Linked DNA regions of Homo sapiens: region 1 is linked to region 2. The links come from fine-mapping of genetic effects on gene expression. A gene starts in region 2. The other region holds a variant in brackets. All regions are shown on one strand. Distances are between the middles of the regions.

Region 1 (9,503 bases), 42 kb before region 2:
TTCTCATCACTAAGTCTTTCAACTCTCTTTTACCTCTTTGCCTGGAAGAAAGAGGGTACTTTTACTAATTAGTTTGTCCAGACTGGCTGCCATATAGTCTTTTTTCTCTAGTACAAAGGCACTCCTATGCCAGCCCTGGCCCATAAGCTCTGACCCTGGAGTCAGACAGACCCGGCTATGGATTCTAGCCCTGTGGTGTGGTATTTGGCAAGTTAACTTCACCTCTCTACACTGCAGCTTCCTCATCTGTAAAATAAGGAAAACGATCTCTCTCTTTTCTGCATAGGGCGACTCCCAGATGCAATAGGACTCCCTTTACCTTCATGGTCTTCTTGAAGCTGTAATGAGGAGATAATCCCTGGTCCCCAGGCTCCATTCGTATCTTACAGAACACTATTCCCCTTTCAAATAGGTAGATTTGCCTCTGGCTGGGTTTAAATCGAATCAAATCCTTCATTTTATAACGATCCTTGTGAATTGTCCAGACGCTGAAAGGGCCGTGCAGCAACAGCTTGCCTAGTTTTCCAATATCGTCCTTTTGGAAACACACATACAGGAAAAGAAGCTGTAAAATTACTTGACAGAGAAAGAAGCCTTTGTGGCCTGTTTTCAAATTTTATAAAGCATGCTTCTTTGAGGTTTACAATTCTAAAAGTGCTATTCAGGCTGGTCTGTCACTAAATCAAAACGACAATTTTTTGAGCTTCACTGAGCGTGGTGCCATTTAGTTATATAAGGAAATCAATTCAGCTATGAAAGGTAATGCTATACATAAAGAATGTTAGAAATGCTTGAGCTAGAGATACGGGGACTGTGATATTTTTGACTCAATTTTAACTAGCAGAATTCAATTTCCTCTGTGCTATGTTTGATACATGACAGTCTCCTTCAAAGGGACAAGAAATTAACATTTCAATTATGTCCAGTAGAGATAGAATTTTGGCTGCATTGCGGACCCATGAGCATCTGTGTGTTCCATCTGCATCCTAACTTCTGCTTCAGGTATATGAGGACCTGAGAAAATGAAGCTTGTTCTGAAAAGAGAAAGTTTACTGTGATCTAATCTTCACAACATTGTAATGGAAATAGTAACTGCATTCAACTCTGAGTTTTTCAGAGTGAGTCAACAGTGCCAAGATAATACCAAATGACAGATTTTTAAGAAGTCTGTTTGACTCTAGGCATAAACTGTGATGCCCCTGTCTCCACCAGCAAGGCTGCCTTTGTCATATGTCTGGTTGAAAGTCCAAATGAGATGACCCTGCCTTCTCTGAGCTCTCTTCAAAAGACAGTGGACCAAGATGAGCTGGGAGCGAGGCATTTTATCTGGTATTTTTCAAAACTTCGATTGCTTAAAGCAGATAAGAATTCATTTCCCTGAATAAAAACACCAAAAGGAACAAATTATTTGAAGGGGACCAAGACAAAGAAATCTCCCTAAGTGACCTCTAGCTGAGATCAATCCCTATGATTTCTGAGTTAATACTGGAAATATGTACTTCATTCATAATTGATTGGGCATTTTTATAATTTATTGTTTATATGTTGGGCAAACTCTAGGTATCTTTTTTAAAAAGGAATTGACTTTACTTCTGAAACATTAAAAGAAAAACTTCAAGAGCAATAAACTCTAGTCATTTCTATGGTGTCTATGGCGTTATTTCCTATGTTAATTTTCTATTTTCTTCTTTGGAAAATTTACATATGTAGACTGTGGTGAATAAAACCCTCAAACTCCCAGCCACGAGGCCTTCTTTCCTAAAAGCCAATGCTCCTGTTCTGTGTTAACAGTTCACCACATTCCAAAACAGAAGGGTGGATAGGTCCATGAGGACCCTGGAGAATTTTTTCACTCTATCTGCATCCATCAAGGACCCACTCAAATGTAATCACTACAGACCTTAGTGACTGCTTTTTCCTTTAAATCCATTCAATTCATAATCAATATCGACATAAATAGTGCAGGAAATATGTTTTAGTAAAGGCAACTGGTAGAAGTAGATACTTAATATTTGCCACATAAACAAATGTTATCAGCACAGGTTGAGCATCCATAATTTAAAAAATCTGAAATCCTCCAAAATCTGGAACTTTCTGAGAACCAGTATGACACTGGAGGTGAAAAATTCCATACCTGACCACATGTGATGGGTGGCAGTCAAAACACAGTCAAAATTTTGCTTCACGCACAAAATTATTTTTTATTTTTTATTTTTTTGAGACGGAGTCTTACTCTGTTGCCAAGGCTGCAGTAGAGTGGCACGACCTTGGCTCACCGCAACCTCTGTCTCCTGAGTTCAAGGGACTCTCCTGCCTCATCCTCCCGAGTAGCTTGGATTACAGGCGTGCATTACCATGCCCGGCTAATTTTTGTATTTTTAGTAGAGCCAGGGTTTCAGCATGTTGGCCAGGCTGGTCTCGAACTCCTGACCTCTGGTGATCTGCCCACCTCAGCCTCCCAAAGTGCTGGGATTACAGGCATAAGCCACTGCTCCCGGCCTTCATGCACTAAATTATTTAAAATATGTAAAATTACCTTCAGTCTATGTGTATAAGGTGTCATGAAACATAAATGAATTTCGTGTTTACACTTGGGTTCCATCTGCAACATAACTCAGTACGTATGCAAATACTCCAATCCTCCCCTAAAAAAAAAAAAACTCCAAAACACTTTTGGCCTCAAGCATTTTGGCTAAGGGATATTCAAACTTGTAGTTTCTATCTTACAATGTATTCACTCTCTACCTCATTTTAAACATTCGACGCATCTTACAGAAATATATACAGTATAGACAGATAGAAAATAACCGAGGGAATTAAGGTGAAGAAAAAATAAAGAAGTTGGGAGCTTGGCGCCTGCCTGTAGTCGCAACTACTTGGGAGGCTGAGGCAGGAGGATCACTTGAGTCCAGGAGTTTGAGGCCAGCCTGGGCAACATAGGGAGATCACCATCCCTAAATATAAAGACAATAAATCAGATGAACTGTTCCAGAAGGTGTAGAAGATAAAAGAAAAGATGAAGAGGTTATATGTAAAATGCATATAATAAAGCCATTTAAACTTGATGTAAACTTGGCTCTGACTTTCTAATAGCAATACAGAGGGAAACATGGTGAGTGGTACGATTTATTATGTCTGAAGACATACACAAACCGGTTGTTCAGGAAAAGCACAGCTATTCCTACTAAGACATAAGAAACATTTCTCCCAGTGATATGTTGTCACTGAGCAACATCCTCAACCACGCCCTATGATAGAAAGAGGAACATGTTTTAGGTAAAGCTGCTTGTAAGAACACATTTGGTCAGTGTGGAGGCTCAGCTGTCAAAGTAATTCTAGAAGAGGCTAGGATGATAGGGGAAGGGGGAATAAGTCGAGGTGTACACTCTCTAATGACTTGTGAAGATGGGGTGACGTGAGTTAAGGCATCCACAAGGCTATTGTAGAGGAAACAGCCCCAACCAGAAATGCTGAAGAGGCAGCCTCAGGCAGCAAGGTTTGTGCTTTATTACCTCTGAACTTTCCTCATCACCCCATCCACAGCCATGCTGCTGCACCTTCATAGGCAAGTAATCAGAGGATGTGAATCCAGAGAGGTACCAGCAGCTGACCATAGGGCCCCCAGCATAAAAACAATGTGCCAGGGTTGGGGGTTGGCAATGTGATCTCTCCCTGAACTGAAGAAAACAGGAGGAAGTGGTGACCAGCAGGAGACGGGGCTGTGAGATGCTTTAGGGGAAAGCAGGCAGTGGAATAAACGAGAAGGAAACAGAACTATGAAGAAGGTGAGTCATTAGAAATTATGAGGAAGAGGAAGAAACTGACGGAAGGGAAAAAAACAGTCAGTAGGTGGTAAGAGGGGGGGCGAGCAGGCATGTGGGTGCACTTGACATATACAGGCGGGTCACACAGGTAAGAACCCCGGCTCCCTCCCCAGGCCCAGGCCCCAGAGGTGCTGTGGATCCTGGGTTTGCTCAGTTCCCATCTCCGCGAACTTGGCTTTGCCATCGTGACTTCTTGAGAAGCTGCAGGTCAGCTTTCCAGTAAGCCCATTATTACTGGAAGTGACTCGGGGGGAGTCGCTGGGTCTTTCAAGTCTGGCAGAAACATATGGGCACATATCCTCTGGGTCATGTTGCACAAATGTTCTCAGGACCACACATATGACGGTATTGCCCATCTCCACGCCCAAGGTCCGATCTCCAGCGGGTGAGCACATGCCCTACACGGTGCTGACCAAGGGCAGGCACACACACTGTTCACTGTGCTGTGTGGAGCTGCTCCGCCTCCAACAGGAAGCTGCAGGGACATTCCCTGAGCAGGAGCAAGAATGACCTTTTCCGTCACGTGTACCTTTTCTTTCCAACTAGACTGTAGTTGATCTCAAGGTCGGAGACCACGTTGCACAACCTCTTTCAGATACGTGTTCACCAGTATTTATTTATTTATTGGCATTCCCTAGTATTTATTTATTTATTGGCATTTAGTGGTGCTTGGGAGTAGGGGACAGGAAACAAAATACTCATCACTGTGAGGGAATATTGATTTATCCAAGGAGTTCATTCAGCGACGCCCCTGTACTGGGTTGAATAGTGTTCCCCCAAAAACTCATGTCTATGAGACCCTCAAAATATGATCTTATTCGGAAAGAGGGTCTTTGCAGATACAATTGGTTAAGATGGGGTTGCCCTGGGTTAGGATGGGTCCAAATCCAATGACTGGTATCCTTATAAAAAAAGAAAACAAAGAAATGGAGACGCACGCTGAGGGAACAGCCATGCAAAGGCAGAGGCAGAAATTGGAGTGGCACAGCTGTCAGCCAAGGAACTCCAAGAATTGCCGGCAGTCACCAGAAGCTCAGACGAGGTAAGGAAGGATTCTTCCTGAGAGCCCTCAGAGGGAACGTGGGCCTGCTCTCACCTTGCCTTTGGACGTCTAGCCGTCAAAACTGTGAGGGAATAAATTTCTGTTGTTTTAAGTCACGTACTTTGTGGTTCCTTGCGACATCAGCCCTAGGAAACGAATATACTTCCAACTGTTTTCCACCAGTAACAAAGAAGTGTGGCCATGTCACACGGTGTGTGGAAGAACCTGATGGTTGTGAACTCAGAGATGGAACATAGCGGCTACCTCAAATGAGCGAGCGATAAGTTAGATGGCCTCCTCTGTACAAGAAGTGATAGCAAAATCAATTAGTAAATGCTACCACTTTCACACCTGGGCATTCTGCAGGTAAGAGCCCCGATACAAGGATTTCAAATGTGACTACATTGGCCAAATGAAGAGTCTGGCTGAGAGAGTGAATCTAGGGAAGCTGGCCTCAGCAAGAGCTTCTTTTGGGTGCCCGTGTTTCCATTCCAGGTAGTAAGAGTTAATATGACTGTCACAAACTTA[CT/C]GCACAAAGAAGCAGGAAACATCTGTATAAATGCGTCCACACAGAGCCTGAGTCCAGAAATGAAAAGCAGAAGCTGTGGGAGCCTGTGATTACAATAGTCAGGGGCAAAGAGGTATCTTCCTTTCCAGCTTGAGCAGGTCCCCATATAACGTACCACTAGGGCTGTTTATTCGGCATCTGTTGGGCGCCAGGCACAGTGCTTGGTGCCTTACCCATCATTTAATTCTCACTTACTCCCGGCAACCGCCTGTAATATAGGTATTGTGGGGGGGTGGGGGGGGTGGGGGGGTGGGGAATGAAGAAGATACTTTGCCTGGGTCACTAGGATTATTTACTTAGCCCTATCTCTGCAGCTAACACTGTGGTAAGGAAAGAGGAAACTGAAATAGAAATAAAATCCTGGCCCTAGCTCACAATGAACTTACAATACAAGTACATCCTTTAGTGGTTTATATAAATTTGTTCCAAAAAGGAAGACTGTTTCATTCAATCTTTACAAGTCAACTTTGGAACTTATCCCTGGCAAGTCAGAATTTAAATGCATCTCTAATATGCATTGGATTTGAAAAAAAAAAAAACTTTTGTTTTTTTTTTGCAAATAGATAGAAGTAAATTATAACTCAGTGTTCCACAAAACAAACTTGTTTGGAAAAGAATTTTAAACTTCTGTGATTAAATTAGACCCAGGACTAATTGAGTACACAGAAAAACAAGAAAATATAAATATCAGAAGGGATTTTTTTCTAGTTGCTTTCTAGTTGTTTAATTGTGATAATTTAATTATCACATTCAATTTCTTTCCTTTATAAAACCAGGTTAATATTAAATTTCAAGCAGAGAAACTAAGAGGTTAAACTGGACTCAGCCATGCATATAGCTGTAATTTATTACAGGTGATCATAAACACCTGTAATAAAACTCTACAAAATGGAGACAAAGAATCTCAGAATCATTTGAGCTGAGTTAGAGGCAGTTGTCAGTCAATTCTAATCAGAAACAGATAAAGAGTGGAATAGCACCCTGATAGGGAATGAACAAGAAATAGTCCAAGGTGACAGCCATGTAATCTTGAGTGAGTTAACTCTTCTTTCCATGGATCTTCTTTTGAATCAGAAGGTTGAAAATTCCAATATCTACTCCTCCATAATTCAACAGGATTATACAAAACTGTCAGGAGAAATTAGCTGATGTATTAGATGTAAAAGTAAGTTAAGTCTTAGTAGAAAAGGTACCAAAAAGCATCTGGCAGAGGCACAATTCTGAGGACACATGGTCAAAAAAGGTCCTTTGCTTTTTGCGTGTAAAATCTCCAAATTCTGTAAGCTGGTTCATCCTATTTGCATGCAAACTGGCTGGGAATGAAATTAGGGCAGAATGTTATTTGCTCATGTTTTAACCATTCTTTTCTCACAGCCTCCTCCTCCTATGTTATTTACACTGTTTCCTGCCCTGTGTATTGTTTCCAGGACATTCATTAGATTCAGGGAAATGAAATTTAATAGGGATGTCTAATACGTAATTCAAGATTTAAAAAGGAACAGAAAGATGCCCTGGATTGACCTAACAAATTGTTCCCTTGACTTTCCTCAGGCGAAGAAAGAAGAATTATTACCAAGAAAATGATCCTTATACACACCCTAACCCTACTCTGCAGTTTATGCATATCCTCTTGAATCATGCATCAGTTGTCATCAGAGACACCTTGGAGTCCCAGGGGACAGTAACAGCATCATGGCTGGGATCACAGCAAACCCCATGGGGCTAAGTTTCTGAGATCCAGGCCCAAGAAATACCAGCGTGGGAAGTAAAAATAACTCATTTTTCGGACCTTAATAACTTTCATGGTTTGATTTATGACAAGGAAAGAAAAGTCATTTCCTCTACCAAGACCTCAATACATGGTATGTTCAAAACCAAATAAAAATGAAAAGAAAAAAAAAGAGAAGGAAAAAGTATAATATAATCACAAGTGACAAAAACGCAGAAGAGGGGGTCACAGAGATGTGATGTAAGAAAAACTTGGCCGGGCACGATGGCTCTCACCTGTAATCCCAGCACTTTGGGAGGCGGAGATGGGTGGATCACGAGGTCAGGAGTTCGAGACCAGCCTGACCAACATGGAGAAGCCCCGTCTCTACTAAAAATACAAAAAAAAAAAAAAATTAGCAAGGTGTGGTGGCAAGTGCCTGTAGTCCCAGCTACTCAGGAGGCTGGGACAGGAGAATCGCTTGAACCTGGCGGGCAGAGGTTGCAGTGAGCTGAGATCATGCCATTACACTCCAGCCTGGGCGACAGAGCAAGACTCTGTCTCAAAAACAAACAAACAAAAAGAAGAAGAACCCAACCTGCCATTGCTGGTTTGTGCTTTATTACCTCTGCTCATAGAAGCCATGAGCCATGGAGCGTGGGTGGCCTTTTTAAGCTGGAAAATTCCAGGAGACAGATGCTAGACTCCAAAAAGGAAAGGAAACACCTTGATTTTAGCCCATGAGACTGTGTTGAACTTCTGACCTTGGAACTTCAAAATAATAATAATAATGAATTTGTGCTGCTCTAAGCCACCAAGCTTATGGTAATTTATTATGACAGTGAAATAAAACAAACACATCTGAATAAAAATCTAGAGTACTTCAAAGTAAAAAACAAAACAAGTCGAATATTAACTATGCTCCAGTCTCAAAGAGATCATACAGTTATAGGGGATGTTTTGCCTGGAATGCCTGGGACCAGCCTGCTCCGGATTAACACTGACGCTGGAGCTCAACTCCCCAGCATTGGCCTCTAACTGCATCTCTTGGGTTTTCTTTAGACTATTTGGATTAATGCATGTACACTATATACTTTTGGGGCCTCTTCTGGGATCTGTGATATAAAATTGGGGCAAGAATATAGGACCTGTTTCCAAAATACTTTTCTTAGAGAAACTCTGAAACAAGAAGACAAATCTTTTACTATTTTAATAGTGCCATGAGTTAGAAAATAAATTGCTCCTCCAGGACTTTTCCTCTGCCCATATATGTTCTGGCCCTTGACTTTCTGGTTTGTCCAGACAGTGGGTCAGTCCCACATTCAGAACCCTGAGGAATAAATCCAAGATTCCTGAAGATGCCAAGGGACAGCTTGGAATCTTGTAGTGCGGGTTTACTGAGCAATTTAGGCGACTGTCCTCAGAGTCCAATTCCTTTACCATAGACGATCTCTCTGACTTTGCCAGAGCATTTCCTCACTGTGTAGTATTGCACCTGCCTTTTGTGTGAGATGCTCTAACACTACTATGGAACATACCGGACATTCAGTCACTGCTGCTAGGTCCACAGCCAACTCACAGGACTTGATCAAATCCTCTATCACTGCCAAAGCTTGTTGTAGTTCAGTTGAGAATGCTGAATCTTTGGTTCTCTTTGGCCCATCCTGTGGAAAACAAATGCCTTGTTGGAAATCAAAAGTATACCATCTGCAAAGTGAAGAAGGAAAACAGGACAGAGATGAGGAGCCAGGGATCCAGCCAACCCTGACTGAGAAGGGTGGATATTGATCTGTCTCCCTGCTCCCAAAGCATGGTGGCTAAAGATGCTTACTGATTTAGGTATACGGCATAGAGACAAGCAAAATCATCTACCTCTGTGCATTGTACTAGTGACGAATGAAGTTCATAAATCATGGAAATTATATTCCTGCTACATAAGAAACATATAGAATTCAGCTATATAGCTGAATTCTATATGTTTCTTATGTGTATATATATTATATAAATATTTATATAGTATATTAAATATTTATATATTAATATATAATTATATGTTTATATATTAATTATATATATTAAATATTTATATATTATATATTATATAAAATATAAGTATATATATTATATATATATATATATATATATATATATTTTTTTTTTTTTTTTTTTTTTTTTTTTTTTTTTTTGAGAGCGAGAGAGAGTTTCACTCTGTCACCCAGGCTGGAGTGCAGAGGCACGATCTCGGCTCGCTGCAACCTCTGCCTCCTGGATTCAAGCAATTCTCCTGTCTCAGCCTCCCGAGTAGCTGGGATTACAGGTGTGCGCCACCATGCCTGGCTAATTTTTGTATTTTTAGTAGAG
Region 2 (9,503 bases):
GCTGGTATCAGGCCATTTTCACAGGGGCTGTTGGAGGGTTGACAGCACAGCTCTACTGGACCAGGGAGGGTCCCAGCCAGCAGGGCCTGCCCCTCCGAAACTGTCCCTGTCCCTGTCCCTGAGAGGCCCCACTGAGTGTCAGATGGCACATAAGAGATTTCCTTATGCGTTGGTGTGAAGGAGATGATCAGTTCCAGGAGGCCCCTCCCCCATGCAGAAGAGAAGAAAATGGAAGAAACCGGGTTCTCAGAGTGGCCTGCGGGTGAGTGCCGCCTTGTGCTGTCAGTTCCCTTCACCTTCCAGTTCTGGGTGTACCTAGTGTGGTTTCATCAAACTGCTGAGGCCCTGGAATTGAGGGAGGATGCTGAAGGGTGCCAGGCCATAGAAGCAGTAGCAGGAGCTGCAGCAAAGAGCTAGTGTGTCTCCAGCGTCAGCTTTTGGGCCTTGGTGGCATCAAAGGAGACGTACACAGGGCCACTGTACTACGGATGGGATTCTTGGAACAAAAGTTTGAATAATTGATGAGTGTGGAAGTGCTATGCAAAAATTCAATTCAACCTGCAGTTACCAGGCATTCATTCTGTGACAGGCATTATTGTGAGGGTGGCAAGGAGACGGGGAGTCTCTGAGAGACTCAGAGAAGAGCAGGGCATGGTGTCCACCCACAAGAGATCTGAAGACTTTCAAAGTAGTTGGGAAAACAGACATACAACTTTTTTCCCCTCCCCACAGCTAGTTGAGGCAAAAGACATATAACTTATACAGTGACAAAATACTACTGACTGTTACTGACACATAACAGCCTGGGCTGGGTCACTGGTGAGAAAAAGGAGGATTCTTGCTTTTGGGGCATTCAAGTCCTGTCCATTAACCATTTCCCAATCCCATATTTATACATCCCATTTTAGACATATTAAGCTGAAGATTGATGTGACATACCCAAAGACACTTAAGGTTGAAGCTGAGAATCTGGGCTAGAAATATAAATCAGGATGGGCTGGGAGCGGTGGTTCACGCCTGTAGTCCCAGCACTTTGGGAGGCCGAGGCGGGCGGATCACTTGAAGTCAGGAGTTCAAGACCTGCCTGGCCAACATGGTGAAACCCCATCTCCACCAAAAATATAAAAAATTAGCCAGGTGTGGTGGTGCATGACTGTAATCCCAGCTACTCGGGAGGCTGAGGCAGGAGAGTCACTTGAACCCGGGAGGCAGAGGTTACAGTGAAAGGAGATCGTGCCACTGCACTCCAGCCTGGGTGACAGAGCGATACTTCGTTTCAAAAAAAGAAAAAAAAAAAAAAGAAAGAAATGTAAGTCAAGATTAAAGACAATGGGTGAGATCAGCAAGGAGCATGTGTGCGGAGAAGAGAACACCAAGGAAGGCTGCGTGTGGTGGGAGGTGGCCGGGGGGCAGAGAAAGAGGCGGCGGAGCCAAGGAGATAGGGCATCGTCTGAATGGTGATGCTGTATCAACAGATGTGAAATTCCCAGAGGTGTGAAACACAGCAGATCCTTTACAGCACGATGACAGGACACAGCATGAGCCTACCTCTGCCAGGTGAGAGGAGCTTTCTGCAACCTGTGATGGGCTCAAGGATGCTGACCATTCATCCGCCCATTGGGATAGCCCAGGCTCTGAGCTCAGCACTCCACCCGTCACTGCGATTGCACTAATCCTCACCCACCCTTGCAGGCAGGTATTACTGTGGGCACAGAGAAGTTTGCTAACTTGCCAGAGATCCTGTGTAGGAAGCCAGGTCAGGAAACAACCAGAGTCTCTCTAACAGCCCAGGCCTTGAATGAACACCGGCCTGCTTCAGAATACATGGCCCGTGATGTGTTTGAATTCACAGATTCACTGGACAGGTTCCCTATAGGGCCTGTGAGGAAATCTGGTCTAACAGAATCCAGAAAGACAAATTTCGCTAAACAGGTCAAGCCTGATACTGCTGCTACACTTCAGCTGTGTTAAGCCACTCGGTTATCAGACCTGCTTCTCCTTTCATGATTTTAGTAACACAGGCCTCTTCCTTGGGCCCCTGTTGCTCCCACCATCTCCCAGGTTCTCTTGTACTCAGGGTTTAGTCTCCCCTCCCCACTACTAATGATGCATGTGCCTTACTCTCTGATCATCTCTCCTAAATCTGCTACTCCTCTGCTCTTTCTGTGCCTTATCTATCCCTGCCGAGTCTAACATGCAGATTTTGGTCATTCCAAAGTCATGTATAGATCTAATCACAGGGCTCTCTGCTTACCAGCTGCTACTTGGATAAGGAAAGCATGCCAACACGGTCCTCCTTCTTCATGCTGGCCAAGTCAGCATCATTATTATTACCTAAGTTTATTTCTAACACATCTCAATATCTTCATGCACTCCCTCTTGATAAAAGTAACTGAGCATAGCACCATCAATACCATCAAATCTGTCATTCTCTTCCCCTCTCTCTGGGTGGGACAGGAAGCCAGGCTGCTCTAGGAAATCTTCCCTAACAAGCAAAGGGGACTTGCCTGTCCTCTCGCATGTGTGATCTGAGCTTGTGTGGATCCCAGAGTGGGCATTCTGGACTACTTGACCTTGCCTATCTCTCCTTCACACCCTCTCATCTCTCCCTCCTACCACCAAAAAACTTGCATCGTATTTCCAATCTCCAGACATACTTTTGAAACCATTTATCTATCTGGTGTGTTTATCTGTATCTAGTATGATGTGAATATGTGATTTGTATGTGTGTCTACCACTGTTTTGGTCAGTTTGTATTTCTCGTGGGTACAGTTCTATGTGCTCATGTATGTGGAACATATGTATACTGACACATGGACCTAGCTCCAAATGATCTGAAAGGAATATAATTGTAATTGAATATTTGCACAGATATACAACATACACATGTGATGGCTGGGGGAAATGCATGTGGGATTTCAGTCAGCATTTTATTAGAGAAGGTATGTCATTAGTGCTGTATTAACAATGAATCAGCTTATTTGTGGGTCACTGTCAATGACTCCTTTGCAAATCACACATGTAAATATTTCTGTCTGTGGTCTGATGAACATGCAGTGCCACAGTCTGGGAGATGCTGAGCCATGCCCTGTGTAGGCAGCATATGAAAAGAACTGCATGATTTAAAAGATGCTGACCAGCTTAAGGAAAGCAATTTAAAAACTTCCTAAAAATCTAGTTTGAATGAACAACAGTTTTCATTTTGTGTGTGTGTTTTTTCTTTTAGAGATGGGGTCTTGCTATGTTGGCCACGCTGGTCTCTAACTCCTGGGATCAAGCAATCCTCCTGCGGCTCAGCCTCCCAAAGTGATGGGATTACAGGTGTGAGCCACCGTGTCTGCTGGCCCCACTGTTTTAAACCCTGATTCGACAATCATACATTTAACTCATTACCTGTCTTGTTCCTTTTACGACAAACTCAAAGCTTTTATTTTACTAAAGTATTTGGGTTAATCTTTTGCTTTTCTGTCATGTTCTGAAATATGTACAATAACAGAATCGCTCAAAATATTATCTCCGTTAAATGTTTTGTGGCTTTAGGGAGAGGTCTAACAACATGCGGGAAACAAGAAATCAAGCGCATCCAGGATTCATTTATAATCTCTCTCGTTGAGTAGAAGTCCGCATCTCTCGATATTGTCTGGTTACCTGCATGAAGTATTCTAAAGGAGGAAAATAGCTCAAAGAGGACATTCATGTGCACTCTGGCTTCCAGTTGGCCATTTGAGTAAGTGATCGCAATTAACTGACGAGCGGCAGGGAAACACTTCCTGGAATTCTCATCTACAGACAAGAACAAACTGGGGCGGGGCCCATCACCTTCACCTACGCGCCGGGAGGGTGGCGGCTGGCGGGCGGGGCCGGGCTCGGGCCGTGACGCCGAGAGTGCGGGGCGCGCGGCTGGGAGCCTCGCGCCCCCGCCCGGGCCCGCCCCCATCCCGCCCGCATACAGCCCGCATCCCGCCGGGGAAGCGAGCCCAGTCCAGCGCTGCCCGTCCAGTCCTCGCCCAAGATTTAAAGCCCGCAAGTTTTGTTCTTGAGACCAGCGACTTTAGCTCCGATGCGGGAAGGAAAGCCGACCTCCGATTTGGACATTTAAAGAGCTGGGCTTGAACTTCGTGAGTTTCGCTCTAAACTGCCCTTGAAATGAAGCTGGACTTGGAGGTAAAGTCACTGGGAAGCTGGCCTGGGGCGGGGTTTCCCCCTCTTCTCGTATTTTAGAAACGGACAGCGGCAGTGCAGCCCTAGTTTGCTGTAAGTTTCCTTACTTTGTTACTGAGGCCCCCAGAGCTCCACGCATAAGTGGTGTGACCAGAAACCTTTTAACAAGACCCGCCTGAGCCTGCGTTAGAGCTCCCGCTCGGAAAGTAAAAGACCATCCTAATCCGCGGCGCTGCGGAACCGGTGTCCCGTGTGGGAGGAACCGCGGCGTTCCCTGGGCGTAGGGCCCGCGAGGCCAGCACAGTCCGCCTCTTGGCGGAGCGCCCTGGGCCGGTGGTTCCGCGCGGAGTTAGTCTGTGGTCAGTTACGTGGTGAAAACACGGCTGTGCCGCGGCCGCATCTTTCCGCGGCCGAGGCCTCTCTGGGTGGGAGTGTTGGCTTCCTTTCCGGATCGCTAAATGGGGAAAGTTCTGGCCGCTCGGCGGGATACGTCTCCAGGCCACGGATGGTTCGTTCTCCGTGCCGCGGCCCCGAGCTGGGCTCCCTGGGTCTCCAGCGCGGGCTCCCGGCATTGGGGGCTGCGGGCCGGCCCCTCCGCCCCGCCCCCGCCCCGCCGCGCCTCCTCGGCCGAGCGGCTCGCGGTCTCCGGCGCGGGAGGCTCCGAGTCTGCCCACTCCGGGCCGAGCGAGGTCTCTGGAGGAGAAGAGTGGCGAGGAGGTGAGGGCACGCCGGCCCTCGCCCGGCGGGTGGCGCCAGGACTTCAGGTGGGAACGCGCGCTTGGGCCGGGGGCGCGTGGCTGGCGTGGACACCGGATCGGGGCCCGCCGCCCTGGCCCGGACCGCGCACGGCCCAGCGCCGGGAAGTCGGGAAGCCGGGGAGGCCTCTCCCACCGCGGGCCCCGGCAGCCCGCCCTCTGAAAGCGCGGCGGAGAAGGAGGCTCGTCCCCTCCCCGGAACGCCTTTGTTCCCTCCGGCCTGCCCGCGCGGGTGGCCAGCGGCTGGGACCCAGGCCGGGCCGCCGCCCAGGTGCGGCAGGTAGGCTCGGGGGCCGGGCAGCTCCGGTTGGGGCGGCTTCCCGGGGCCTGCGGGTCCCCGTCCCTGAGGAGCTCCGGCTCCTCGGTGGCGGGACAGGCCCGTGCGCGGGAGCCGCGAGGCGAACGCCGCGCCCACCAATTCGGTTGCCGGCCGGGGGCCCCAGGCTTGCGGCCACCCGCCTCCGGCTGGAGGGCTGAATTCGAGTCGAAAGCCCGTGTCGGGCTGGAAAGAAGAAACCGCCAACCTGAGAACGCTTTCGGCGAGTTACTGGCGGGGGAAATGGGGACAGGGAAGTGGGCAGGCGGGGAGACTGCAGCCGCAGATCTCCCTGGCGGGGAGGTCGTGGCCACTCTTTCCTTTGACTCTGCCTCATTTCATTTTGAATCCTGATGTGACAGAGGCAATTGCTTGCTTGGATACCATATAGGTAAAAGTAACAGTTTTCAACTCGACTCTTGACTACACCCTGTACATTCTTGGCCGGTGTTGGTTTTCTTAGGTTATGGATCATGTTAAAGGTACACCGATGTGGTAACCGCACAGTGGCCGATGGTGGCCTGAGGCTCATATTTATGGTAATTATCTGATGAAAGTACATCCATCAGAATTGGATTTGTGCGTCTGTGCCTTTATTTTGGGAAACCTTGCCTGTTCCCTGTGGGGGATGGGAGAGGAATGTGAAAAGCCGAAGTTGACCCAGAAAAGGATGATTGAAGGTAGTTGTATTAAGTGGTGGCACCGAAATGATTCCACCCTGAACTTTCTGAAAGGGTGATTAGTGATCAGCAGCAGACGTTATAACTTTCTCAAAATAAATTTATGGTAGATTTTCTATCTGGTCACAAGTGAGGAGGTGAAAGCTGCTTTTTGGGGCCAACTCTTTGCTTTTAAAGCAAGCTAAACGCAATACCAGAAAGGTTTCCATTCTGTACTTAACCTGCTTGTCCTTCTCACTCTTCCTTATCCTCCCGCACACGCTCTGAGCATTGACTGAGCACTCTGAGGAGGAGGCTGACTCAGGCTGACCCTTCCCGGCCCTGCAAGGCTCTAAGGTAGAACCAGTGTTATCACAGGAAAGGCCCAAGCCAAAGCTCAGAGCAGCTGTTCCTGAGAAAGTGGGAGATGAGGATGAGTAGGAGGTAGAGATGCTTATAACTGCTCTGCCCAGAGAAAACTCAGAAGGTGCAGAAGAGTTTTCAAAATAAAGTGCAGGCCCCATCAAGTAAAAAATGAAACATTGTATTTCATTAAAATGGTGATCAGTTTTCTCTTTTCATAAAAGACATTCAAATGGTGAGATTGTAAAAAAAAAAAAAAAGAAAAAGAAAACTTTCTAATTCTCAAAAATAGAACAGCTTGAATAATAACTCATGGGTTTTGAAATGGGTCATCTTTTAAAATGGGTCACTTTGGCTAGAATCATTGCACTTGGTGACTTTCACATTGTAAAGGGTCCAGTTCTTTCTGAGGCCCAATTGCACTAGAATCTGCATTTCAGAACACAGGAGGTATCAGGAAGAAACTGGGAGAAATTCAGAGGGAAATTGTCTCTTCTCAGAGTAACAAAATGTCCCCTATTCAGGGGGAATTTTATATATGCTGAAGTAAATAGATCTCAGCTTTGAATTTTTATAATACATTATGCCTTTTCTGAAATATTTCCATAGCCATTATTTTAATGCATTGTTAGAATAACCTTGTAAGGAGAGGAATTCATTGTATCTGTGTTCCAGAAACTGAGGCACAGTAAATTACAAGAGCTCTGCCCTTTGATATCGAATCTCTGTGAGCGAAGATGTAACCAGAACAGTGTAAATCTAGAATTACTTTCCTTACGGTATGCAATATCTAATTATTATGTATTAGTTTACATATATATAGGGGATGTAAGAATCTTTATATTTAAAGGATAAGAAACTTGATCAGGTGAGATACAAGATTTGAATAAAAAAGCGATTTTTTAGAAACATTTTAATTCTACAAATTCAGTTGCTGGCTTTGATATGTAACTTATTCAGATTTCTCTTCCATAGAAGGCTTTAACACTAGAAGCCAGTTCTCTACAAAAGAGAATGTTCTACCAAGTGTGTAGGCAACAAAGCCCAAAAGTTCAAGTTCAAAATACTGTTCTACAGCCTAAGATCCACCTAATATTTCAGATTTGACTCTTTTGCTCCTTTCCTATAACTTCCTATAACTTTTTCATAGTGCTCTAAGCAAAGTAAGTTCAAGGATGGACTCACCTCAAGTTTCCTTCTCTTACTTTAGAGGACCATATAATCTTATACCTGTGTCATCCTAATTGAAATGTATTTTAAGTGCTTGTGGGAACAAGAATAACGGAAGACCGTTATTCCATTAATGGAATAATGGGGAACATGAGAAGGACCATATTCAGTCAATTAGGGATGATACTTCTGCCTCAACAGTATTTGCGATGTGTTAAATGGCCCTTAGCCATCAGATCAGTATTTTTAAAAACTCCTACCTAATTAATGTTTTTTGAGAAGAAGCATATTATGAGTATAGCTCAGTATTCTAAAAAGAAAAAAACCTGAAAAAAAAATCAGCCATCCATTAACTAACCCATCCTGGTAAAGCTACACAAACAGATTCTAGAGAAAGGAAATTTGCACAGATGGAACATCTAATCTGGACTGACATTGTCAACAAGTTATCTCAAATGATCCTGAGAAAACACTGGTACATGGTTTAGAGACAAGTCGAGCTCATGTGACTAGTAAATGGAGAGGCACAGTATACATCTACTTTTGTTGGCATTTAAACACTCTCGGCTTTTTTACTCTCTTTCACCACCATCAGGTCCAGATTCCAGCTTGCACTGGAATATTTATTGACCCTTTGATAGAAGAGCTACACCTGAAACATCTCTGAAGTCTTTTTAGCATCCTATCCTGCCCATGGCCTACTACACAGTATGTGATAAGTTAATGTTTGTTGAATTAGTTAAATATACGTATTAACCTACTTTCAGGGCTGCCCGCTGTAATGCCTAGAATAGGGCAGGCACTTAATAAATGGTAGTTAACTTAGACTAAATGTTGATCCACCAAGACAGAAACATGTTACATATACCTCTTGTTTTACACCATCTTCTACTTTTTGTACCTCTGTGTTATAAACCCTCTATCAAGTGTTGCTTCTAAAGACAATGTCCAGAATGGGACGTAGGAACTGCCACTGGGCAACAGGCAGACACTGGGTTATATCGTCATCCTGTTTCTGAATCCTGGTTTTTCTTATTATTATTCAACCACAGCTAAACTTTCTGATCTCCTTTTTTCCGTTTTTTCCCTTTACCCTAACTTCTAGCCAAACTAAGTGATTTGACATTTCCCCACTCAAGCCACAACTTTTTCTCTTATGTGCTTAAAAAAAATTCCTGCGTAGTCTCTCTTGGAATGTCTTATTCCTTGCTCCCTCCACTTCACCCTTTTTTTTTTTTTTTTTTTTTTTTTTTGAGACGGAGTCTCGCTCTGTTGCCCAGGCTGGAGTGCAATGGTGCCATCTCGGCTCACCGCAACCTCCGCCTCCTGGGTTCAAGCGATTCTCCTGCTTCAGCCTCCCGAGTAGCTGGGATTACAGGCATGCTCCACCACACCCAGCTAATTTTTGTGTTTTTAGTAGAGATGGGGTTTCACCATGTTAGCCAGGATGGTCTTGATCTCCCGACCTCCTGATCCGCCCGCCTCGGCCTCCCAAAGTGCTGGGATTACAGGCATGAGCCACCGCACCCGGCCCACTTCACCCTTTAAGCCAGTTGAAATGCTCCTTGCCCTACTCCTCCCTTCTCCTTTTCTTTCTCCCATCCAAGTACTAACCAGGCCCAACCCTGCTTAGCTTCTGAGATCAGCCAGGATCAGGTGCATTCAGCGGGGTATGGCTGTAGACTTCTCTTTCTGAGCTGTGTCTTCCTCCTTTCCTCCCCAAACCCACATTTGAATTCTGTTCTAGCTCCTGCTCATTTGCCACCTCTCCCACAAAGCCTTCCCCAGTTTCCATCTTCTCCCTGCTTCCCTCATCTCAGAGGAAAGCTCTTCATTCACAGAGCACCTGGTTTGGGGTCCATAGTTTGTTGTCCCTCAGTATCCTTGGGGAATTAGTCCCAGGACACCACCCCCCCGCCCCTGATATCCATGCATGCTCAAGTCCCTTATATAAAATGGTACAGCATTTATATTATAACCTATGCAATATTCCCATGTACTCTTTTTTTTTATTTTTATGTGTTTAGAGATGGGTCTCACTCTGTTGTCCAGGCTAGAGTGCAGAGGCATGTAGCCTTG

What was found.
Region 1: its variant is fine-mapped to the expression of B3GNT5 in blood mononuclear cells (TOPMed, PIP above 0.99). The same link has a PIP of 0.9 or more in monocytes, spinal cord, tibial artery and tibial nerve.

Annotation. Positions count from the first base shown.
Region 1 is chr3:183,207,289-183,216,791 of GRCh38, forward strand. MCF2L2 (MCF.2 cell line derived transforming sequence-like 2) reads right to left here. Exons shown (of 30, transcript NM_015078.4): 22 at 8,681-8,806; 23 at 320-535. Among named protein-coding and RNA genes, the nearest start is that of B3GNT5, 41 kb to the right of the region's middle. The variant CT/C (reference allele first, on the strand shown) is at 5,395.
Region 2 is chr3:183,249,309-183,258,811 of GRCh38, forward strand. B3GNT5 (UDP-GlcNAc:betaGal beta-1,3-N-acetylglucosaminyltransferase 5) reads left to right here and starts at 3,945. Exons shown (of 2, transcript NM_032047.5): 1 at 3,945-4,164. The region is part of intron 15 of MCF2L2 (MCF.2 cell line derived transforming sequence-like 2); the gene reads right to left. It overlaps LOC124906310 (a long non-coding RNA gene), which reads left to right. Exons shown (of 3, transcript XR_007096189.1): 1 at 1-262; 2 at 1,476-1,557; 3 at 3,227-3,247. It also overlaps the pseudogene RNA5SP151.